3 separate regions of the Homo sapiens genome follow, and regions 2 and 3 are each linked to region 1. A link means that fine-mapping ties the variant in region 1 to the expression of a gene that starts in the linked region. Tissue or cell type: whole blood. Region 1 holds a variant in brackets; each other region holds the start of a gene. All regions are shown on one strand. Distances are between the middles of the regions.

What was found. PIP is the estimated chance that this variant, and not a neighbour inherited with it, causes the effect.
Region 2: ATP8A2 starts here. The variant in region 1 is fine-mapped to the expression of ATP8A2 in whole blood (TOPMed, PIP above 0.99). The same link has a PIP of 0.9 or more in T cells and blood mononuclear cells.
Region 3: SHISA2 starts here. The variant in region 1 is fine-mapped to the expression of SHISA2 in whole blood (TOPMed, PIP above 0.99). The same link has a PIP of 0.9 or more in T cells and blood mononuclear cells.

The regions. Positions count from the first base shown.
Region 1 is chr13:25,967,560-25,975,665 of GRCh38, forward strand. ATP8A2 (ATPase phospholipid transporting 8A2) reads left to right here. Exons shown (of 37, transcript NM_016529.6): 35 at 1,016-1,120. It overlaps LOC105370122 (a long non-coding RNA gene), which reads right to left. Exons shown (of 3, transcript XR_941764.3): 3 at 8,021-8,106. Among named protein-coding and RNA genes, the nearest start is that of SHISA2, 80 kb to the right of the region's middle. RefSeq lists enhancers at 6,854-7,393, 7,394-7,932. The variant C/A (reference allele first, on the strand shown) is at 3,952.
Region 2 is chr13:25,368,058-25,376,163 of GRCh38, forward strand. It overlaps ATP8A2 (ATPase phospholipid transporting 8A2), which reads left to right and starts at 3,917. Exons shown (of 37, transcript NM_016529.6): 1 at 3,917-4,231. The coding sequence starts at 4,156.
Region 3 is chr13:26,047,811-26,055,916 of GRCh38, forward strand. SHISA2 (shisa family member 2) reads right to left here and starts at 4,206. Exons shown (of 2, transcript NM_001007538.2): 1 at 2,832-4,206. The coding sequence starts at 3,165. It overlaps LINC00415 (long intergenic non-protein coding RNA 415), which reads right to left. Exons shown (of 2, transcript NR_146971.1): 2 at 4,466-4,862.

The sequences.
Region 1 (8,106 bases):
GTCTTTGGGTCCTGGTACATAGCAGGATCCTCACATGTATTTATATTTAAATTAAACCGATGCAAAGCTTTTCAGTCTGGTGTGTTACTAATTTTTGAGCCTTTTCCCTTTGCAGTTTTTTTCTCTTATATAACCTATATCTGGTTAAATGTCTTTTCACCTAGACTGTTTCCAACTAGTAGCTAGATTGTTTCCAACTGGTAGCTCACTTTTAGCTTAGTTTAGTTTTCATTTTATAAAGACTCTGAGATTGGCCAATTATTTGAGCATTGTGAGGTATTCATCTTAGTGTCCTCAGTAAAAGGGTAGAGGGAACTCTTCCTACCATTCAAGAAGAGTGAGCTGTCCAGGCTGCGGGTTATTTCATAAGTTGTATTAATGTCACTGAGGCCTGCGTGTGTGGACTCCAATGGTGAGTTGTTGCCAGAGGAAGATGGGAAACCTGCACTCTGGATTTGTGTTGACTCCACGTTTCAAGCCTCTGGTTTTGCATCCAGACCATGCACTCTAGCATCCTAAGCCCCGTGGCTGCTGTGGCAGTGGCTCTTTTCACGCTAAAGAGGGAGGGAGGAAACTTGCTAACCCCTGGGCTCTCTGACTGCAGTTGGGGTCCTTGGACCAGGGAACCAGTGCCTGTTCACTAAGGTGAGGGTTTAAAGTGTCTTCTTGGTTTTCAGTTCCTGACAAGAAATGCTGTAGAGGTAGACCCTGGGTCTTCGTGAACCCCACCCAGTCTTTGAGTGACTGGGCTGCTCGGCCGACTTCCGGTTCTTTGCGGGGTGGGGGTGACTCTTGACATGCATGATCCGGGTCTGGTCTGCAGCACTCAGGATACTTCCGGGCTGTGGAGATGGAACCTGGGTCATGCATGGAGACTGTGAAAGCTCCACCACTTCCCGAGCCTCGGCCTCCACCAAAGGGCATTTGGCTGTGGCCTGAGAGGGGAGCGGCCTGTCTTTCCCAGCTGTGTCAAGTCTCTATGCCATGTTCGTTTTGTCTTTTCCTCATAACACAGAGCCAAGCACACCTGCAAAAAGACATTGCTGGAGGAGGTGCAGGAGCTGGAAACCAAGTCTCGAGTCCTGGGAAAAGCGGTGCTGCGGGATAGCAATGGAAAGAGGTGGGGAACTCCGTCCCAGTCCGCACAGAACACAGGTGCTCCCGGCCCTTTTCCCTTATTCCTTCCTGTATTTCTTTTTCTCATCTTGGTTTTCGATGGGAGCACAGTATGCTCAGGCTTAAGAATTTTGGTTATTCTCAGATTTAAATCACACTCTCAGTGACTACATGAAACCTAAATCTCTGGAAGTCTCCAGGTAAGACTGGGGGTTTTATTGGGTTTAGAAGTGAGCAAAACAACTCATGTGCAGAAAATCGATGTTGTGGCAGTATTATCTTAAGGTGGAAGAGTCCAGAGTTAGCAGTATTACCACAGAGGAGTTAAAGCTAGGCCTTTGAATTTCAAACCCAAGTACTGTACCCAAGGATGAGTATCTACAGTGTGAAGGTTTGCATGTGAAATAATGCATGTTGTTATTCATGTAAACCTGTTACATTCCACTTCAGCATATCTAAATGGGGGAGTAGTTTTTAATGCTAACATTTTCTGCTGGGAGTGAAAGGAATCGTGTGAACTCCTGGAACAGACACTGCCGCTTGCTCTCCTAATTCCTCCTGAACATGAGCCTGCCCTTCCCCACAAGGAACAGCTGGGTCTGTGTGCAGTTTTTGTTTCATCACACAAGATGTTAAAATGTTGTTAGAGTGCACTCTGTTAAAATCTATGTACCATCAAGGGAAATTTCTTTGGGCCTGAGAACAATTTGCAGGGTACTAGAAAGCCATTGCTCTATTAAGGACATGGAATATCTATAATATTCTGAGTACAGCTCTCCTATAAATGCTTAGAAGGAAATCAGTAACCAACTGCTAATGAAACAAACATCAAGAAATCAAATACTTATAGAGGTCCCCACTTTGTGTTTTGCTTTATATTGTGTTTATTTGTACCATCTTTTAAAGCAATGAAGACAAAATAATTTTTTTGTTAAAGAAAGAGAATGCAAACATTTTGAGAGGCTTTCAAAATACAATTTCAAACAGATTTTAGAAAAGGGATGATGGCATAGAGTTGAAGTTGTGGTTTTGTATTTATTTATGAGTTATTTTTTAGTAAGTTTATTAAGCATTCATTTTATAGCAGCTATGCTAGCCACTGTAAAAAATCATCAGTCAACAAGACAAAAAGCACTGTCTTCCATAAGCTTAAGTTTGTGAATACATGGGGATGGGGGCTGATTTTACCGCAGATGTACATATAACCACTACGCGTGGTTGAGGCTTGTTCAGGGCTGTTCTATCCATCAGACAGCTGAGGCATAAGGCTCAGGACCTGTTAGAGTTTCAGGGACCTACCGTGCTCTTTGAGACCTGAAAAAAAACATATTCATAAGCTCCAAAAATTAGGGAGCAGGAAACATTGCATAATGAAATTAATAAATGTTTAAAACCCTATAAAATGCATATCACTCTTAACCGTTAAGTTTAGTAAGGACAATAAGTTTATTATACTTAGAAACAACTTACAGGCTCCCTTATATATCAAGTATACACAATGATTGCTGAGGGGGCATAAGTAATTTCTAAGTAAAATGAGAATTTCAGAGCAAAACTCTCAAACTCCTCTCAAACATTTTACAGGACGACATCACATATAATGTGGTGTGAGAATGTGCTTTAGAGTGTTTGTTCTGATGTGGGGAGGGGTCATCTGGCTTGAGCAATCAAGAAAGGCTTCATGTTGGAGATGGATGAACAACAGGCTTTTGAGGATGGGAGGGTCTTGAATGGACAGAACTGCTGAGAGTCTGATTTGGGCAGAGGGAGTGGCACATGCCAAGGCTCAGGTCCAACACTGTGTGCAGGGACCAACCACCCAGTTTGGAGGGCCACATGCATTTTGCAGAGATACAGAACCTGCGTTTGAATTCTGGCTTTGCTACCTACCGGTGAGGCCTTGTGCAGGATATTTCATATGATCAGATTGTCTCTTCATCTGTCATAGAAGAAGGCTAATATTTTCTTTGGGGGATTAAGGTTCGTGAAATATGTACAACGCAGCATATTGCCTGACCCATCTCAGGTGTGTAAAAGGTCAGCTGCTCATCTTCACTTTGGCAGGAGAGTCATGAGCTGTCGGCCTTGAATTGTATTGAAGGAAGTCGTGGGCTGTCAGCCTTGAAAGAGTGTGTGAGCCCATTTTTGCTTGTTGTTGATAAATGAATGTTATTTTTAAAATTCACTTATCCTGTTCAAAATTCATTTTTAAATGTTCAAATGGATATCAGAAAATAAGAGCTTAAATGCGGTTTCCTACCGTCTACATTTGAAAGTCTTATTTTCTGGTTCCTTGTAAATTTCACTTTGTAGTTCATATGATGGGGTGTGTGTGTGTGTTTCTGTGCACGTGTGCGCGCACACATGCACGGGTGGGCCTGCATACTCCCGTTTGGTTGCACCATTTTCCTTTTCTTCTAGTCCCAGCATCTTGCTTCACTTTGGAATTCCTAGCCAGAACACAGTTTGGGGGCTCTGCCGCTCATCCTCCTCAGTGACCCCCTCCCATTTGTTTTTCTCACTCCTAATTACTCACAGATTTTCTGGGTGGTCCATCTGCAAACTGGATAATGGTGGCGTGCTGCTCTCTGCACAGAGTCTATGCTGTCCTGCTTGGCCTCCTAAGCTGCCTCACAATTGTTCTCTTACAACCTTTGTTTTCTTCTTTCACACCTGCTTAGATTCCTGAGGGGTGGAGGGTAGAGACTAAGAAGTCTGTCTTCAGCTCTGTCCTCCCTTCTAAAGATCTTATAGACCCCCACCTCTTTGAGGGGTCCTGAGTGTTTTTGTCTCTTCTCACCCCTCCCTGTTCCTTCTTTCCTACCCTCATCTGAT[C/A]TTTCAGCTGATTTGTGTATCTCTCTAGCTGTTAACCGCACAGGAAACTCTGTCAATATTTGCTGGCTGACTGACTGGCAATACCAAAGTCTAGTGAGGTGGTAGTGAGGAAAGGACGGTGACTTCAGTGCCAGATGAGCTGACACACTGGTGCCTGTGTGTCAGCTCGTGTGTCGGATGTGCACAAAGTGGCCACAGAGAGATGCTGACAGTCACCGGGCCTCCAGGGAGGGGGCAGTTTATCTCATTGCTTGAGAGTACAGCTAACATAGACTCACACATGGAGAGGCATCTGTGATGTAAGATTAGCAAATCTTACCCTTGCAAAGATGCACAGGCCAGGAGCCCATCCTCCCTGAAACCCACTCCCTCTCCTGCCTTCCTGTGCCAGCCAAGCCAGGGCACCCCCAGGGGTCCTCAGCATCCCTAACCCCAGGGGCTTACTCAGCTCAGTCCTGACAGCATTGCTTAGGGCCCCTTAAAGGACATTCTGCCAGGTCATAAAACCCAGGTCCAAGTCACTGGCAAATATTCTAGCAGTTTTTCTTAGGAATGTAACCACAGGAAGTAGAACAAAAAAAATCTGTATGCATTAATCTTTTTAGAAAACCCTCTTGTACCAAATTTACAATTACAATTTTGAAATGGTAGCCAGGGATTCTAAGTTTCTCTCTGTGCCTTTTATTCATTCAATAAAATATTTTCATCCAACATTTTATTGAACTTGTCTAAGCCTCATACTTTTATACTATTTTGATAAAGTTAAATTTTCATGAACATGCTTCTGCACTTTCTCATTAGTAGATCTTGTCTTCCAAAATCAACCTGTGGAATTGATACTTTAATAAGCCTGTTCTCATGAAGAAGCAGATAATGAGAAAGGGTGAGATCAGGGAATTAGATATCCAGAAAGCACAGTGAAGAAAGTGCTTTAGGGAGTGAATAAAATGTTTGTCTTGATTTTAGTTTGTTCTTCTTGAAGGAGTGTTTTTCACGATGTGGTGTTTGTGCGCCTTATAGACACTGGACACGTGTGACTGTTGGGGTTGATCAGAATACCTTTTCCCAAACTGTCTTCCCAGTAATCCCTACCTGGGGAAGCAGGAACCCCCCCGCACCGCACATGAAATAGTCTACCCTGCATGTCGTTATTTTGAGTGTCTAAACAATGAGGAGCTAAATGGAAGAAAATTCTTTGTTTTTTAATGTCTTGGTAATATCTTTCCTTTCTTTATTCCTGAAGTGTAAGCCATGCAAATTTCTTTCCTGGTGAAAGAAAATCTATCTGTGGCCACTCACTTTTACAGATACAATATAAACCGATGACGGCGTGTAAGATGACAGACTTTTGTTCCTTAATTTTTTTTGGAATGAGATAAGTGGTTGCCCTGTAATATTTTAGGTACAATGGCAAGCAAGAAAAAAAAGGGGGAATATATTTGTTGAAAACATCTAGTTTTTGAGTTATGCATAGCCTGAATAAACAAGGAGAGCTTGTTCTATTTCTAGATCACCTTTCACTCTGTTCATCCCAGTTGGTGGGAGTGGGGTGGGGTGGGGTGAGCCCAGGGCTGATATTCTCCATTGTCAAGGGTAAACAGACCCGGTTGCTGCCCCTGCCTTTGCCAGGAAGGCAGTGGATTATCTTCCCCTTAAGTGCTTTCCCTGGGTGTAGCTTACGCTGTGACTTTGGTGAAGGTAGCTGTGTGGCTGGTCTTAAACCTTCTGGCGAGCCGTCGCCTCGTCTCCCTTCGGTTTTGTGTTCTGTGAACATCTGTGCGTGGCCCTGTGACCCGGGGTAATCTGGACGGCCCATCACCGCCAGGGAATTCAGGAGGGAAACCTGACTCTTGCTCTGCGGCTTCCATTTCATCCAGGCTGCCTCTAAACAGGCAGGGCCCTGGTCACAGCCTTGGACAGGTGGCCTGGGATCCTAATGGAGCTCTCTCTGCCGAAAAATAGGAACAGAGCCTGAACCACAGCAGCAAGATTTCAGACAAACCAAAGATTGTTCCTCCACTCCAGGCAGTGCTCTCGAGTGCTCCTTTGAAAACCAGTCGTATTAAAAAAATGAAACAACACAAACTCCCGAATGCATTCTGAGTGAGTACTCAACTCAAAAATACCTGTCATGCTTTGATCTTTAACGGAAATCCTTTGATCTTTAAAACAGTGTTGAAAAAACTGTTTAGTATCATCACACCTCTAAGTCAAAATCAGTCCCACTGCCAGGCTGAGCATGTCGCTGAGCCAGCCTGAGGCAGGAGGGATGCAGGCCTTTTGCACCGGACTCCAACAATGACTGCGTCACTTCAGGAAATCGGTTTTTTCACAGTACTGGCCGTTGGCAGTGCACATGTGGTGCATCTCCCTTTTGCTTTTGTCCCACCTCTCCCACACTTTCCTCCTAAAATACCTATTATTGGCTTTTTTTCCAGCCAAAAGGATAGGAAATTAGGGCATCCTTTCAGCAAACCTCTCCAGGCCAGGTGGCAAATGTCTGCTTCCAGCACCTGGTTGAGATTTATTTTCCTTCCAGCTGCATTTTTTTTCCTCAGCTCTGTCATGAAGCAGAGAAGCGAGTGCAGACGGCGGAGACAGATGACCTGAGCTGGGCTCTAGCTTAGCTGTGTGGCCTTGGCTGGGTTATTAACTTCTCTGAACTTCAGTTTTCTCATCATACATTCGCTTTGAGGTTTAAATAAATAATGCAGATTAAATCTATAGCCTATGTAGATGTTCAGGAAGCGTCCCCTAACTGAAAAGCTGCATAACAAGTACATTTCACTGGCCGTGTTTACCATCTAACATGTAAGCCTGGGGAAGATGTGAATGCAGCAGGCTCTCCGAGTTGCATCGTCGGGGTGTGCCCCCTAGTCTGAGGTAAAAGGGAGAAATCTAACAGAATCCCAGGGACATGGGAGTGGTGTGGACGAATGGCCGTAGTGAATGTTGGATGGGGGTGTGGTGGGGACTGTAGTGAGTTCTGAATCTTGGTGGTCTCCTCAAGACAGCCTTTGGATTACAGCTTCAAGGAGCTCCTCTTTGTGAAGAGGACAGTGTACCCAGTCCAGGCTGTCCCTTCTGCCCCAGGATCTCTCGCCAGCTTACCCCTGTCCATCTGAGCTGCAGTCTGTCTGTAACGTCTATGCCGGTCCTTGCCACTCCTCCCCAGAACCAGCCCTTCCTTCGGAGTCTCCTGCTCCATCGGGATGAATTTTTCCCACACTGCAGACTCGCTCTCAGTGTCCACACTGTCCCCTCATGTCCTGCGCATCCCTGGGTGCCAGGTCTCGGCGTCTTCCCAGCATCTGCACAGTCATCCCCCCTGGTCCCTTGGGGTGGTGCCTGTCCCTCTTCACCCACCATCCCACAGCTGAAGACATCCTTTGTGAAGCACAGCCTCATCATGCCACCTTCTGCCCTCAGCCCACCACCTGCTGAGCCAGTGCAGACCAGAACCACAGTGATTTCCGCCTCTGCTTCTCTTCTCACGTGTGCGACCCTCAGCTTCCACCTCCCCTGTCCTCCCCACGCTGTGCCCTTCTGTGGTTGGTGCTACCCTTGGCTCTTCTTGATTGACTGGTTTTATACGATGGTGTTGCACTGTGTCCCAAGCACTGGGCCACACGTGGGCTACTCAGGGGCAGCAGGACAGGCCTTGTCCTGGGAACAAATGCCGTCCACCTCAGGACACACTCTCTGATGTCACCAACTTCCCTGCTGTGCTGATGGCAGCCTGAGCTTCCCTTAAAACACTCATTTTAAAAGTTTTATTTTCGACCGGTTGCGGTGGCTCACGCCTGTAATCCCAGCACTTTGGGAGGCCAAGGCGGGCAGGTCACGAGGTCAGGAGATGGAGACCATCCATCCTGGCTAACACAGTGAAATCCCGTCTCTACTAAAAATACAAAAAAAAAAATTAGCCGGGTGTGGTGGCGGGCACCTGTAGTCCCAGCTACTCAGGAGGCTGAGGCAGGAGAATGGCGTGAACCCGAGAGGCGGAGCTTGCGGTGAGCCGAGATCGCGCCACTGCACTCCAGCCTGGGGGACAGAGTGAGACTCCATCTCGAAAAAAAAAAAAGAAGTTTTATTTTCATTATTCAAATATTCAAGCATACATAGTAGTAGGGAGATGAGCACAATAAGCTCTTA
Region 2 (8,106 bases), 600 kb before region 1:
GATCCTATGAAGATACTGGTCTGCGGACAGAGGGAAAGGAAAGGGATTAGGGGTGAGTACACAAATGGCTTTCAACAGGCCTATACTGCTTTGTTTCCTAAACAGGAGAACAGGTACAAGGATGATTGGTACATGCTTACGTATAATTTTTAACATGCTACTTATATGCCATTTTCTTTTTAAAGTGTTTATGTAGACAGATGCGGTGGCTCATGTCTGTAATCCCAGCACTTGGGGAAGGTGAGGCAGGAGGATGGTTTGAGTTCAGGAATTTGAGACCAGCCTGGGCAACATGGTGAAATCCTGTCTCTACAAAAAATACAAAAAGTAGCTGGGTGTGGTGGCACGTGCCTGTGGTCCCAGCTATTTGGGAGGCTAATGGAGGAGAATTGCTTGAGCCTAGGAGGTTGAGGCTTCAGTTAGCCATGTTCACACCAGTATACTCCATCCTGGGCAAAAGGGTGAGACTCTGTCTCAAATAAAAAAGTGATAAAATGTTTACACATATATACATATATGTATACAGATATAAAAGGTAAAGACGCACACATAAGCATTTTAAAAAGGAAATGGGGCTTTTTTAGTTTGAGGAAAAGAAGGGCTTAAGAGATGGCTTGAAGTCTTCGTTTGTATAAAAGAACTTCTTGAGAAGGATGCCAACTGACTGTTTTCTAGGACCATGAAGACTAAAAAGGAAGGATAGGCTTAAGTTAAAATAGTAGAAATTTAAGATGTTCAGAGGACAAACTGCTTCAAAACACTAGTTCTTGAACACTGGAGTGGGCTGCCAAGAGAAGCGATCTGGCCTCTCCTTCCTTGGGAATCACCGGGAAAGGGAGAGGCAGCCTCTGTGCCGTCACAGCACTGGAGGGTCGGATCCTCTCCTGGGAGATCAGTCTGTCTTGGCTCAACTTATTGCATAAGGAGAGGGGCACACAGAATAATGAGAGGATGACGACAGCTGCCTTTCAGGGAAAGAAAAAGAATTCTCCCTTTCCCTTCACTTCCTCCTCCAGGAGGAAAGGGCTGCTCTGGCTTAGTTAAGTTCAATGACACTCATCGACCCACAGTGCTAGGGACTTGGTGTGGCTCCTACTGGGGGCTGCAGGCTGCCTTTCTACCTGTCTTGTGAACGCGTAGGGTCGTGGCTCTAAGAATTGAGGCAAACTCTCTTTGTTGAGGAGTTCTTGCTTTCACAGACAGAGCACATTTCCCTGACTGTCCTGGTTGCGGTGCCTTTTGCGTTTGCTGTTTCTCCTCACAGGCTTCTTTATCTCCTTTGGTTCTAACCTAGGCTGCCTCTGGCAAGGGTGAAAGGATGTCTCCAAGCCAAGCCTGGGTCACAGGGTGATCCACATCGGCACTGGATTCTAAGCATAATAATAAATACTGTCCATTTGCTAGCTTTTGTCCTTTGTGCATATATTTCCCTTGAAGACCTCAGAGATGGGATTTAGGTCTGACTCTGGCCAATGCCAACCTACTGATCTCCCCAACATTCCAAGAGGCAGTCAGATCAGGGGAATTAACCAAGACATCAAAGAGACAACACAAGTTGCTGTGAAATATTCACCTACTGCTCCTTGCAGTCTATGCTGTGATCTTCAAGGTGCACCAACTGAGGTATATTTCACACACCTACAAAGCTGTCAGGGCAGTTTGGTTATTGGAAGATAAACATAGAAAGAGCAGCAACAACTCTGTTTCATGATGGGGCTGCACAAAGTCAGGGTGGGACATTTGGTCACTCTTCAGTGATCAAGGCAAATATTCTATATATAACATACTCTGCTTCTTAAAAATTAAAAATAACCTTTATCTACTCTTTCTATTCCCACCTAAGTCAGAGCAAAAAAACCCAAAATGTTTTCTATTTATCTTGAAGTTTGGGGATTGAAAAAAACCACATTTTCCTTTTAAGTTCCTTTCAATTCTGGTTAGGTCCTCAAGGTGTTATCATAGACAGAAGATTTACTGAAGCATAGTGACAAGTTTTTGACAAATCCAGTCCTAGGATTAGCCCCAGCTTTAAGATTTATCCTCAGCAGCAATGAAGATCCACTGAGAAAACCTCTCCCACTCTGAAGCTTAGCTCAACAATTTAGAAAATTTTATTTTGATTCATCTTCCTGATAAAGATTCATTTCTTATCAGAAAAATTTTTTGAGGGCCCAGAAGAGACAGGTAAAGAATCCTACCTGAAGCTACATTTAGTGTAGATTCTTGCCAGCCTGCAGTTTTCAGTGTAAGTTGCCTGTCCCTTTGGATGTTGTTTTTTGTTTTGTCTTGTTTTGTTTTTGGTGGAGTCTTACTCTGGCACCCAGGCTGGAGTGCAGTGACATGATTTCCGCTCACTGCAACCTCCACCTCCTGGGTTCAAGCGATTCTCCTGCCTCAGCCTCCCGAGTAGCTGGGACTACAGGCACCTGCCACCACACCCGGCGATTTTTTTTTTGTATTTTTAGTAGAGACGGGGTTTCACCGCGGTAGCCAGGATGGTCTCCATCTCCTGACCTCATGATCTGACCGCCTTTGCCTCCCAAAGTGCTGGGATTACAGGCGTGAGCCACCACGCGCGGCCTGGATGTTTGTTCTTAAGAAAATTAGAAGCAGAGGCCGGGGGTGGTGGCTCACGCTTGTAATCCCAGCACTTTGGGAGGCCGAGGCAGGTGGATCGCCTGAGGTCAGGAGTTCGAGACCAGCTTGGCCAACTTAGTGAAACCCCGTCTCTACTAAAAATACAAAAATTAGCTGGGCGTGGTGGTGGGCGCCTGTAATCCCAGCTACTCGGGAGGCTGAGACACAAGAATCACTTGAACCCGGGCGACGGAGGTTGCAGTGGGCCGAGATAGCGCCATTGCACTCCAGCCTGGGCAACAAGAGCAAAACTCTGTCAAAGAAAAAAAAAAAGTAAAAGAAAATAAAATCAGATGCAGAGGCCAGGCAGGAGGAGCTCAGGCCGCACTGCTGTCTTTGCTAGCACAGATTCTTTTTGCTGAACTCTGTACTACTCCTTGTCAGTCCCTAATGTTAATTTAGGTTAAAAGAAATGTAATGCTCGCATCAGTAAAAGCAAGGTCAGACTTTCACCTGAACAGTTTTATTTTTGTTTTGTTCCGTTTTTACTCCGAGGTCAGAATGTCATCAGGCACAATAAAGATAGCTTCTTATCTTCATGGGATTGTGCCCAGAAAGACCAAGCACAGTCTAAACATTACGCGATAAGAAAAAACAAAAAATAGATCAAGTGACCTTGGACAAGTCATCTTACCTCTCGATGGTTTTGTTTTATGAAAGAAGGTGTGTGTGTGTGTGTGTCGATGGGTGTGTGTGTGTGTGTGTCGATGGGTCTGTGTGTGTGTGTGTGTGTGTCGATGGGTGTGTGTGTGTGTGTGTGTGCGTGCGGGGGTTGAGAAGGTTGCTGTTAAGGTTCCCTAGGGCTACCTGCAGCTTTAATATGCGTAGTTAGAATGTCAGGCAGGTTGTGGAGAGTGGGGGGCTGGAGACCCCCGACTTCTCTGAGTGCCAAGCCACACATCAGACACCTTGGAAATAACCCTTCCACGAAGTCCCTACACAGATCCCACCAGGCTGGGCACGGAAGAACAGAAACTGCGAAAAGAAAGGGACTGGATGAGTCCTGGGGAATCACAGCGCCTCCACTTGCACAGGACAAGTGACAGGCAGGTAAATAGGTAGCAGACAGGCAGAGACTCCGAGTCCCCCAGGTGCACCCCTCTCCTGGAAGAGCCCCCGAAAGTACAGGCCCAATCTCCCACCCCACCAAGCCCTCCCCATCGCCTTCCCCGACACCTAAAAGCCCCGGTCCTGCGTAATATTGCGGATCCCTCCCAGCCTCCCGTCCGCTCCTCCTCCCGCGGGGCTCCGCTCAGGGCCGGTCCCCCGCCCCCACGCCGCAGCCCGGGCCAGCGGGGCCCGCCGCGGTGGCGTTCGCGGATGCTGCCGCATTGGCCGCTGCGGCACGGACGGCGCAGCCTCGGGCGCGGCCCGGCACAGGCGCCGGCGGTCCCCGCCAGCTAGCAGCCCGGCGAGGCGCTGGCCCACCCATGGTCCTCGGGCGGCGGCCCCTGCGCCCAGCCCTGCGCGTAGCCTCCGTCTCTCGCCCGGGGCCGCCGAGCCCCCGACACGGGCGAGATGCTGAACGGCGCAGGCCTGGACAAAGCTCTTAAGATGTCCCTGCCGCGGAGGTCGAGGATCCGCTCGTCCGTGGGTGAGCTGGGAGGGGCGCGGCGAGGGAGGGTGGGCCCGGGGCGGGGGCGGCGCGGGGCGCGCCTGCGGTTATGCGACACTGCCCCGCCCGCGCCCCGCTCCCCTCCCTGGGCTCCCTGGGCTCTCTGGGCTGCAGGATCCGCCGACGCGGCGCGCTGGCCGCACGGGGGCTGGGCGTCGCTGCACCTGCGGGGCCAAAAGGCTCCAGGCCGGGGCGAGGTGAGCGGCGGGCGTCAGAGACCCCCGGCTCGTCCCTGTACAGATGTGTGTGTGTGTGTGCGGCCTCCCTGTGCGCGTGCCCGTGCGCCCCTACGCGCGGATGCGGCTCAGGGATGCGACCTAGGCGGCAGTCACCGCGATGGTGGGCACGGTTTGGCGGCGCAGAGAAGATGCAGCCTTCCCTGCCGGCGGCCGGCACCGCTGTGCTGCAGAGCTCAAAAGCAGAGGGGGAAAAAGGCATCCGAAGGGTCCCTCGAGTGATTCTCACCACTTGGAGCCCCGGGTCCTCGCGCGCTCACAGCGGCGACGTACTGGCTCATAACCATCCGTGCATACAACCATCTGGAGACGAACACACACACGCACACGCGCGCGCACACACACACACAGGTACACACACACGTACACACGCACGCGTACACATACCCTGCCTGCAGGCGCCTGGGTGTTGGAACTCGAAACCTAAAGCCAAACACGCATGTACCATACCCGACCACTCACACTGTTAGAGGCCCGCGTTCTATGATTATAGAACACATTTAGAAACTATGATGTCGTGGAGCTGGATGTTATGTGGCTATGACACTTGATAGGGTTACCTAGACCATTAGTTAATGCAGACGTAAAGAGGAGCCCCAAAAATGATTTCTTACCGTTTCAGGACTGCGGCAAGTTTGCAGGTAGATCTTTGACATGAGGAAGGTAGAGGGTGTACAGTTTGGAGCTGGGGTCACTTGTCTTCGTGCTTTTTTATTTGTTTTGAGAAAATAGGCACATAAAAATAAGCGACTTTTGTATTTCTGTAGTTGAGTAACGTGAGAGGGAAGCAAGCTTATCAGGTAATTTAAGCCAATGTTTGTTAAACTTGGGTAAAGTCAGGACACTTTCACATTCATTTTGAGGAGAATCCCAGCCTGAAGGGGTCACGGGGTGCAGGGTCAAGACTAAATAGCAGGGAAGAGCTGTGGCAGAGAGACAGTGGGAGGGCGCAGTCATACAGGTGTGAGAATTTCCCAAGGTGGAGGCAGCCTGAGGAGACCTGGGGACACCCTCTGTACCTTTGCAGGTGGGGCCAAAGGCATTTGCTTATGATTTGGATGTGGGGCTTCAGTACAAGAAAAGAATCAAAGATGCCCCCAAGGGTTTTGGTCTGAGACACCGGAAGAATGCACCCCTTGCTGAGATGGGGAAACTGCGGAGGACCAGGGTTCTCTTTTGCGGTAAGGGAGGGTGTGAAGAATTTGGTCTGAAATGCCTACCATAGATCCAAGAGGAGATGATTAGTAGAGAGCTGGATTTATGAGTCTGGGGCTCCGGGGAGTGTGCAAGGCCAGACATAGAGATTCAAGAGTCGTCGGCAGGACCGGCTCCAAGAGTGTATGCCCTGCAGCTGCTCAGAGTCTGGCTCTTACAAGAGTCAGCACTTGCTTGGATGTTCTGCCCAGTGTTGCTGTCTTGAAAGTCTTAATTTTTGAACAAGGGGCCCACCTTTTCATTTTACACGGGCCCCTAAGAATTATGTGATCAGCTGTCAATGTGTACAGATGTGACTTAGAAAAGAGGGGTCCTTGGATAGAGTCCTGGGCACTCTAACATTTTGAGGTTAGGGAGATGAGGGTCAACAGAAGGGGCCTGAGAGGATGGCCAGGGAGGTCCCCGGAAACCCGGAGGGAGTGCTCTGAAACTCAGTGTGGAGATGTTCAGGAAGGGGTGGGGTGTACCTGTGCCCAGTGCTGCTGAGCTCAATAAAGATGAGGCTGGAGAACTGTCATGTAAGTGGAGGTCACTGGTGATCTTGAAAAGAGCTGTTAACATATCATTGTGGGGAAGAACGCCTAATAGAGCAGGTGTAAGAGTAACAGGACAGGAACTGGAAACAGCAAGTCCGGAAAACTCTTTTGAGTGAATATTGCAGAAAAGGCAGGGGGAGAAGCAGATCGAGTGGTAGCTGGAGGAAAATGTGAGTTCAAGAGAGGTCGCTTTGTTTTGAGACTGTTCTACAGTCTGACGGCATGAACATCAACGCAGGAAGCTTTTAGGGAGCAGGGGGGAAGGCAGTGATCTGAGAGTAACCGTGAGAAGCAGGGTCCTCCTGGCAGAGCAGTTAAGGCAAGAAGTTTCAGGAATAGTCAGAGGGGTCGGGTTGTGAGGGATCTTGCTGATGATAGGCTGAAAGTTCCAGGAGACAGAGTGGAGGCTCTGAGATGGGGCCTGTTTAGGGTATTTGCATAATGTATGGAGAAGAAAGAGGATCTGCATAGTGTGGGCTCCTGGGGACACTGATGGAAACAGGGGCAGAGGGCCTGACAATCGTGTACTCCCATAAAAATACTAAACAAAGATGTGTGATTTTTAGTGAAGTCTGCTACTTCTCATTATTAAAAAATAAACTAATGATGAAAGGATTGCAGATCACAGTCAGCTTCAAGAGTATATGCTGAGCTGTATACTATTTTTAAAAATAATTCTGGAATATTTTCTTGTCTGAGCCATCTTTGACTCTTATCTTGTTCTGCATATTCAATTGCACTTTGATCAGTTTTAGCTTTCCCCAAATATCTACTTGGTGCCAGTGTGTCTCATTTTACCAAATGATGAAAATCCAAAGATTTGTGACCATGGGGATCCTCTTGCCCGTATAGTGCTTACAGTCTGCTCAGGGTGGAGCCCCTTAGAATGGAAACAAAGTCAGTGACAAATATATATCAGTGCCTTCTATGTGCCCGGCATGGTTCTAGGTGCTAGAGACAGAGCAGGGAACACAGCAGTGTGTCTCACAGAGCTTATGGTCTAGGCAGTGACTACAGTGCACGTGGGAAGAGCTCTCAACTCTCTTCTCTCACCTTGACCCAGATGAGTAAGGAAATTAAGGGTGTACATGTGAATATGGGTGTTGGGGGTTGTGGGAGGGGAGGAGTGGGGACAGAAAGGAAGGAAGTTGTTTTCTATGGACGACAGCATCAGTGCTGTCTATGGCAGAAGCTCTTCCCTATCTTACCGCATTTCTGGACTTAGTGAAAGAACGGGCAGGCAGGAAGTGCACAGACCAAGTGCAGAACCCAGAGGACTACAAATATTCTTTTTTTTTTTTTATTTTGAGCCTGTCGTCAGGCTGGAGTGCAGTGGTGTGATCTCGGCTCACTGCAACCTCCGCCTCCCGGGTTCAAGCAATTCTGCTGCCTCAGCCTCCCAAGTAGCTGGGATTATAGGCTCCCACCACCACACTCAGCTAATTTTTGTATTTTTAGTAGATACGGGGTTTCACCATGTTGGCCAGGATTGTCTCGATCTCTTAACCTCGTGATCCACCCACCTCGACCTCCCTAAGTGCTGGGATTACAGGCGTGAGCCACCGTTTGGACCAGGACTACAAACCTTCTAGAAACTGCCCCTGGAGCCCTCCTCTAAATTCCACACCCAACTCACCCTGCCCTCTGCTGGTCATCAAAGGTATTTTTTAATGTGTGTTTTCTGTTTTTGCCAGAACAACCTGCCCCAAGTTTCAAGGAGGAGAATCAGGGCAGCTGAAAATACAAGCCGTGCTAATGTGAGAATGTAATAGCTGGAGGATATCTCAGAGATGGTCTGATCCCTTCACTTTACAAATGAAAAAAAAATTCGGAGAAATTCCTTACTTGCTGCTTAATTTCTGTCAGG
Region 3 (8,106 bases), 80 kb after region 1:
ACATCAGGAGCAACAAGACGTGTTCCAGAAAGAAGAGTCACCCACAGCAAGCCAAGAAGGCAAGAGTACACAGGGAAAGCCCTCAGAGCATAAAGCAACGGCCATCACACTTCACCCGGGAAGCTGATTTTAAAATAGAAAACCATAAAAAGTAAAAATAAAAACCTTTTGATAAAACCACTAGCAAACTCCATTTTAAAATTAGTTTCTGGCGGGGCACGGTGGCTCACGCCTGTAATCCAAGCACTTTGGGAGGCCAAGGTGGGTGGATCACCTGAGCTCAGGACTTCAAGACCAGCCTGGCCAACATGGTGAGACCCTGTCTCTACTAAAACCACAAAATTTAGCTGAGTGTGGTGACGCGCACCTATAATCCCAGCTACTCTGGAGGCTGAGGCAGGAGAATCGCTTGAACCCAGGAGGCAGAAGTTGCAGTAAGCCGAGATTGTGCCACTGTACTCCAGCCTGGGCAACAGATTGAGATTCCATCTCAAATAAATAAATAAATACATAAAATTAGTTTCTTAAAAAAATCTTTTAGGAGCCATAGAGAGGGCACTACAAGGCTTTAGAAAATAGACGCAGGTTGACAGGGACAGAATCAGATGGGAGGTGCCTGCAGAATGCCTCTGAGCCACTTTTGTGGAATTCTACCCTATGTTACCAAGAGCCTGCATTTTCTGATGTGTTCTTGCCCCAACCTCCTGGCTATATTTTTGGGAAATACATAAGCACAGGGGTGGATTGGGTCTTACTGGTCTTGGCAAAGCATAATGCCAGCCCAGAGTCGGATGGGGCAGCATTTTAGGAAGGAGACCACGCCTTTGAGGTCAGCTCTATGAATACCCTTTCATCATCCATTAGAGCAGCCGGGCTTTCTAATTATGCTCCTTTTCACTGTTCTGGTATTGCTGGAGTCAGTGTTTTTAAAGTATAATACCAGGTGGAATTATGGAGAAATAATGCCCTGTAAGTAAAACAATACTTTATAGGTATTTAACCAAAGGCTGACTGTGGAATATTTCCTGGAGTTTCAATGCTGAACAGAGCAATTTCTATATATAGCGCCCCTTTAGCAGGTAGAAACATTTGCTACAGTGTCTGCAGCACAGCTGGCGCCCAGCAGTAGAACTGTCCTAATTACACTATCACTTCAGGCTAACTACGGATCACTGGAGAAGTGGATGCAGGCTTTTTCCTTGGCGTGTTATAAATATTTCATTCTCTAAATTAAGACACCAGCCCTAAATATGTTATCAAAAAATAAATTAATAGTAGTAAAGCAGGAAAAAAAATGTACCCCAATCATAGCAGAAACTAGCTGAAACCAGCCTCAGTCCACATAATGAGTTTTGGGGAGAAATAAGTGTTCTCTTTCCAGGATTTTTAATTGGAAATGTAAATAACTACACAGGGATAAGGAATGTAACGCTACTATAAGCCCCCCGGCAGGCTTAATTAGGCATGTTGCCCTTCACTGCAGAAGAAAAGTGAAAGAAATACAATTTTTAGGAAAAAAACGTTTAAAAGTAGCATGAAGAAGGCATCCATGCACAACACAGGGCGTCATGAGAAGTCTCGTCCTGAGAAGTCCCGACTAATCCAAAGCCATCCCAACTTTTTGGAGACCATTAATGAGCCCAATCTAGCAGACATCTCACTGTAGCAGTTCGGGGTCTGGCTCCCTTCTCTGGGCTTTCTTCCATGGCCACACAGTCTGCGAGACTGAGCTTGCGTTTTAAGACTGCGCTGGTTCTGGAATTACGCTCTCTTCAGATTCAAGACAGCAGAACAATAGGAGTAGCATGCTAATAAAATGCTTGACTGCGAAAGGGAACGGCACTGAAAAGAGCTGTCTCTCACGAGGTCCTGGGAGGCAGCTCTATAAACACAAACTACGCTGTGCCAAAGCTCAAGCAGCCCGAACCCAGGCTCAGGATGCTAGCGAAAAGCCTCCCAGGTAAACACAACGGGCCCACAAAGAGGAGGAGCCGCCCCCTCGGGGACACGTTTGCCATTTTACCTCTACACCTCCCCTCCCCCGAAATAAATAACACACACACACACACACACACACACACACACACACACGGAGTGACTGGTGTAGACACCCCAGGGAGGCATTCCGGAAGGTTTCTGAAGAGTGAAGTGCAACCTACCAAATTCTTTCACGGGTTTACTTTCCAACTCTGGCTTTGGCAATTTGAAAGAAAAAAAAAATCAAAGCCACAAAGAGCAAGGCTGGGCACTGCTCCGATGTTACACCTACTAAGTCTGACGTGGTAAGGAAAACAGTCCAGAAGCCCCACAGGCGGGCCGCTGCAGGGGAGAGGGGCCGCCGCGTGGAGAAGATGGGAATCCGCGGCGTCTGGCACGGGGCAGCAGCCCCGGGAAAGCCCTGAGGAGCTGCCTTCCTTTCGGGGAGCCTTCAGGGGAGCACCGCTGCCAGGCCCTCACGGGTGGGGGCGCACCCTCGCCGTCTCCTTGGGTACCCCTAAGACATGAAGCCCTATGGAGACAGGAGACGCCAGAGGGGCCCGGAGGACCCTGGTCAGAAGGAATATGGGGGCTGTCTGTGGCCCACACTGCCTTAGGAGTGTGATTTTGTTCGGAAAATTAACTCTAAGCCACCCTTTGGCTGACAGATGGAGAAACTGAGGCCCGTGAGGGTGAATTAGGGACCCACACCGACCAAATAATAAGCCAGAAGGCAGACTCCGCCTCCTGGTCCTAGGCCCTTTCCTGAATTTCCCCCCTTCAAACTCCCAGGTCCCTGACGTCCAGGCAACGCCAACCGTCCTCCCTTTCGCGCTGGGCGCAGGCCGCCCTACCTGCCGAGCCGTCGGGGCCGTCTTTGTCCGCCCGGCCAGGCTCGCCAGCGCCCTGCTGGCGGTCATTGTCGCAGCCGCCCTGGTCCAGGCGCGCCTCGGCGCTGGAGCAGCAGTAGCGCAACGCGCAGCTGCCGCAGCAGATGGTGGCGTCGCCGCCGTCGAAGCGCTCGGGACACTGGAAGCCGATGCGCCAGACGCCCTGCGCGTCCAGCCAGCCGTGGCAGTACTCGCCGCTGGCCCTCGCCCCCGCCGCCAGCAGCGCAGCCAGCAGCAGCTGCAGGAGCGAAGCGGCGTTCCAGGATGAGGAGACGGACGAGCGGCGAGCGCCCCACATGGCACCACCCTGGGCGCGGACAGCGCGTCTCCAGAGAGCGCAGGACGGTCTCCGAGAAGTCGTGGCCCCGGCGACCCCCGGGCCTCGTCACTGACTGTCCCGCGGCGCTTTCCGCGCGGGCCACTCCCCTCTGCCGCGACGCCCAGGAGGCGACGACGCCGGGCCCTAGGTCCAGGAGCTCCTAAGCCATCCCCGTCCTCAGCCGGTGGCCCGGTCCCCTTAGGGACTGCCTTATGAGTTGCACTCGCTGATGGAAATCTCGGGATGCAGTCAGAAGGCCCCCGGGGCTGTCGTCCGGAAGCCTCTGGAGGTTTCACTGGCAACCGGACCCTCCCTGAGCATCCCCGAAGGGATGCTCACTCGAGCCGAATGACCGCTGGGCGCGCCGCCGCGGACCTGGAGCCAGGGCTCTGCGCAGGGTTTAAGCCTCAGGGTCCCGCGCGCGAATCAGGGCCCGTCTCCCCTCCTTTATTCCCTCCTCGGGCGGGTAGAAGGGGCGAAGGCGGGCAGTGCACGCAAGGCTCTGGGCAGCAAGTGACGCAGCCGGCCGCGCTCAGCCTCCTCTGCCCCGAACTTGGTCCGCATGGCTCCGGCCGGGCCGCCCGGGCAGCCCACGGGGGTGCAGCCCCGACGCTCCACTCGGCGGGGCCGACGGCCAATCTTCCCAGCACGTCGCCGAGGGAGCGCTCCTGACCCCGGGAACGTCCAGGACGCAGGCGAGGGTCCTGCGCGCCCCCAGCCGCAGTCCCGGGAGCCTGCCCAGCTGGCGGCGGCCGCGGCTGCTGCTGGGCGCGGATCCAGGCGGGCGGCTCGCCCCGGTTCCCCTTCTCCGCCTCCCCGGCTGCAGCGCGGTCCCACAGGAGCCCGGCAGCCTCCGGCCGGCTCTCCCTCTCCCGGTCGCTGCCTCGCCCTCGGGAGGTGTGCGCACCGATGGAAGCCTCCCACGGAAGTTTCTTTCCTCCGGGCTACGGGAGAAGCCGAGCGCAGCAGCCGCCCACAGCCTCGCCTCGCCCCGCCCGGCGCCAGACCAGCTCCGACTCCGCTCGCTGCCGCGCTGAGCCGCGCTCTTATAGAGGCCGGCGGCTCCCCGGCGCGCATGCGCGCTGCGCGGCTCCCCCCCACCCCCGACCTCAGGGACGCCCGCGGGCGCCGGGCAGCCCCTCACTTTCCTACCCCGGGCAAGGAGAAAGGTGTGGCCAAGGGCGGGGTCTGCCTGCTGGAATAGGCGCGGGAGGAAACCCAACCTAAGCAATCCAGGCCTCGCTAACACAAATAACAATAATAACGGAAGAAACTCAACTTGCTTTGTGAAGATCTTTGGCATTCAACATTCGGTTCGATTCTGCAAACTTCTCAAGGGATTATGATTACTTTCCACTCTGCAGATCATAAAATCGCCACTCAGATGAACTCTCTCGGCTTCCAGCAGCTGATGTCCTGGCCACGGTTGGTCCCAGGCCCTGTGCAGGAAGAGCACCGATGTTTGTGGCAGGGTTCACACGCCTAGGGCTGTGTTTGGTGGACTGGAGGCCTCCACCACAAGGTGGAACGGAGAGAGTTCAGCAAAGATGTCACACATTCGGCCACGGTGTGGATGATCTGTGTCCCTTTTTCTTTCTATATTTGGGTGTGGTGATTTATCGGATTCCAGCAGGAAAGTGCCTCCGTCCAACATGTGGCCTTAGTGGTTTAGACAGCTGCAGTCAGGAAGAAAACAAGGTTCAGACAGACCAGAAATTCAGCTTTGATGAAGGAGAAATTAATAGCTTCTCTCTTGCAGAAGCTGGAACAACAGGTGCTGATGTTATTAAAGCAGCAGTGCTTATTTTTAAAGGAACGAATGCCCCTTCCCACACCGTCTGGGAGTCAGCAGACCTGAATTCTAGACCCAGCCCTACTAGCAGGGAATCACTGCGTTTTTCTGGTCTCAGTTTCTTCATCTATAAAGTGGAGCATAGGATGTGACGATCACTAAGGTCCCTTTCAAGTCCATGACTTCAGAACACAGGCAGTTTTATTCACAGCAAAGACACTCAGGTTCAAGCAGCCATTGGATGCTTGTGTATGCCTGGTTAATGTGAAGATTCAGACATTGTTGATTATTCTTCCACTTGCCCCAACAATGTCAAATCCAAGAAAAAAAACCCTACCCTATGTCCCTGCTCCCCAACACACACCTTATTCTTTTCACTAAACCTCTCTCCAAGCATTGCACTTTGTTTTCTTGCAGTTTTTTGGTTGTGTATCGTTTTAAGCTACACAAAATTATATACTTTAAATGCACTATTCACCAAATGTCTTAAGCTAGTAAGCTAAAAAAAATTTCAATGTCAAGAAATCATTCATTCAAGAAATACACGCCATGCACTTACAGTGTACTGTGCTCTGTGCTGGGTACTGGGACTCATCAAGAAGCCAGACAGCATGGCCATTTCCTTCAAATAGGGCCTAAAGTCTCCAGGGTAAAATACAGAAATCAGACAAAAAGACAAAGAACTGAATAAGCAAAGAGAATGCAAGTATGATCAAAGCTCTTACCCACAATGAGAACAGCATCAATTTAAGCACATAATCTAGGTTAGGGTGGGGAAGGAGGTCAGAAAAATCATCAAAGGAGTAACACTTAAAAAGAGACCAGAAGAAGCCAAGGGAAGATTGAGTTTTTCAGAATGAGTCATTTTCTTAGAAGACACCATTAGCCAACATTTATTGAGAGCTTACTATGGGCTAGGCACCACGCTAAGAATTTCATGTGCATGGTTTCATTTAATCCTCACATCAGCCCTATAAATAAGACAGTATTACTATCCTCATTTTACTGGTGAGGATACTTGCTCAATCCCTAAAGATAGAGAGCGTCGGTTTGCCTGGACTGCACCCAATTCTTCCTGACTCCAAACCCCACTCACCGCACTGCTGATCACCACAGCCGCCACTACAGAAAGCCCAGGATTGATTAACTGGGAGTCCTGTACAGATCATGAGATGCTCCTATGGCAGCACGAGTTGATTTGGGTAGTGTTCAGAGGGTGAATACTTTCAATTTTGCCATTTGGAAAAACAATTAATGCGAGAGAATTGTACTTATTGTTCTATTTAGAATTGTATTATTTCAGACAGTACCTATGCCTATAACCTCCTTCCAGGATCCACTTATCCTACTCACCAAAACATCCACAATTTGTCAGAGTTTATTTATGAAGAAAAAAAATTGTTTAACATTTCATATTGGAATTGATTTGGTGACTGGATAGTGCCACCTTTAAAACACAATGTTTTTGCCAAATAGTCTACAATTTAATCTATAATTGGTGAACTTAGAAGTATGGCGCTCTGAGCAAATTCGTCTTTTTTTTTTTTTTTAATTACTGTGTTTCTTTTCTTCCTTAAAAGTTAAGGAGAGGCCCTTTCATAGTTACTTTACGTAGTGGTTGACTGTCTTCAATGCTGAAAGGTCCTTTATGTCACTTTGTCTCTCTTGTATTATCGTTTCTTTGTGTATCTGGAATGTTGAACTGAAATTTTATAAAATAACTTGCCAAGTATTTAGTGAGGTTCTGCATGGGAGGTGCCACTGGGAGATATTAAAATAGGCTTGTTCCTTCCATAGGAAATAAAAAGAAATTCCCTCATTGGTCTTAACAGACAACCAAAACTATTTCACTCGTTTCTTCTGAGAAGCTATAACTAGTAATTACAACATATAGGTAGTAGTAATCATAATTTATGATAATCAAAATGAAATGTTAGGCAGTCTGCCAAAATATATTGAAAAACATATGAAAGAGTGCAGCCCTCTTTTTAAAAAAGTTGAATTCTATAGTCACTAACTGAAAAAGTATATTTTCAAGTTATTTTGCCTTTCAGTATGTGCCTGTGCATATATATATAAATATATATATGAATAAAATCCAATTGATTTAAAAGCAAACTTCTGACATATCTTCACTAGTACAAATAGCAAGTCATATAACTAAAGAAATGATTACTTACAACTTTACTAACTGGAGTTGATACAAATCAGATGGAGGTAATAATATTTCATTTGGCTGGCAGTTCTAAAAGCTGCAAGATCTACAGTGTTTTTCTGCAAGTTTCAGCAAGAGCAGAAGGTTCTTACCATCTGCACATCCATCAGCAGTCTGTTTAGGGAGAATGGCTTTCACTGGGTTCATTCATTTTTTTTTCTCCTCTTCTCTCATAAATAGAAATAGTACTGAAAATTGGCATTTGGTTTACCAAAAGTTCTTTTAAGTTAGAGTGTTTTTGTGAAAACCCAAACAAATATATTAATTTACATTTATTTTAATTTTGTCTTCTGTTTACCTAAACTTATGTTCAAAAATGTTCATAAATTTATGAAAAAAAATTGTTCTTGCTTTAAAAGTTTTAATTTTTCACCCTCCTTATTTTTATTGTAATTGACATACTGACTTCCAGAAAAGTAATTTCCATATTTTCAATTATATTTCTTCTCATTTGTCATTATAAACTATTGACATAGTTCTCTCTCATCCCCCCTCCTTACTCCATTGTTTTACTGAACCCCCTTTAATTTTGATTTTGATGTTTACTATGGATATATTTCCATTTTGGAGATATGGAGTTTCACGGAGGGCTTATTTCACTAATGCCTTCCTATCTAAAAGAATGGCATAAACAAAAGCAAAATGTGCGAAGACTTGCAAATCATATATACGAAAAGAGTCTAATATCCAGAATATAAGAGAACTCTTACAACCCAGAACAAAAAGACAACCCAACCAAAAAACTGGCTTGAATAAACATTTCTCCAAATAAGATCTACAAAAGGCCAACAAGCACATGAAAACACCTTCAACATCATTAGACGTTAGAGAAATGCAAATCAAAAGCACAAGATACCACTTGACTTTCACTAGGTTGACAATAATAGTAATGATAATGATAATGGGAAATAAT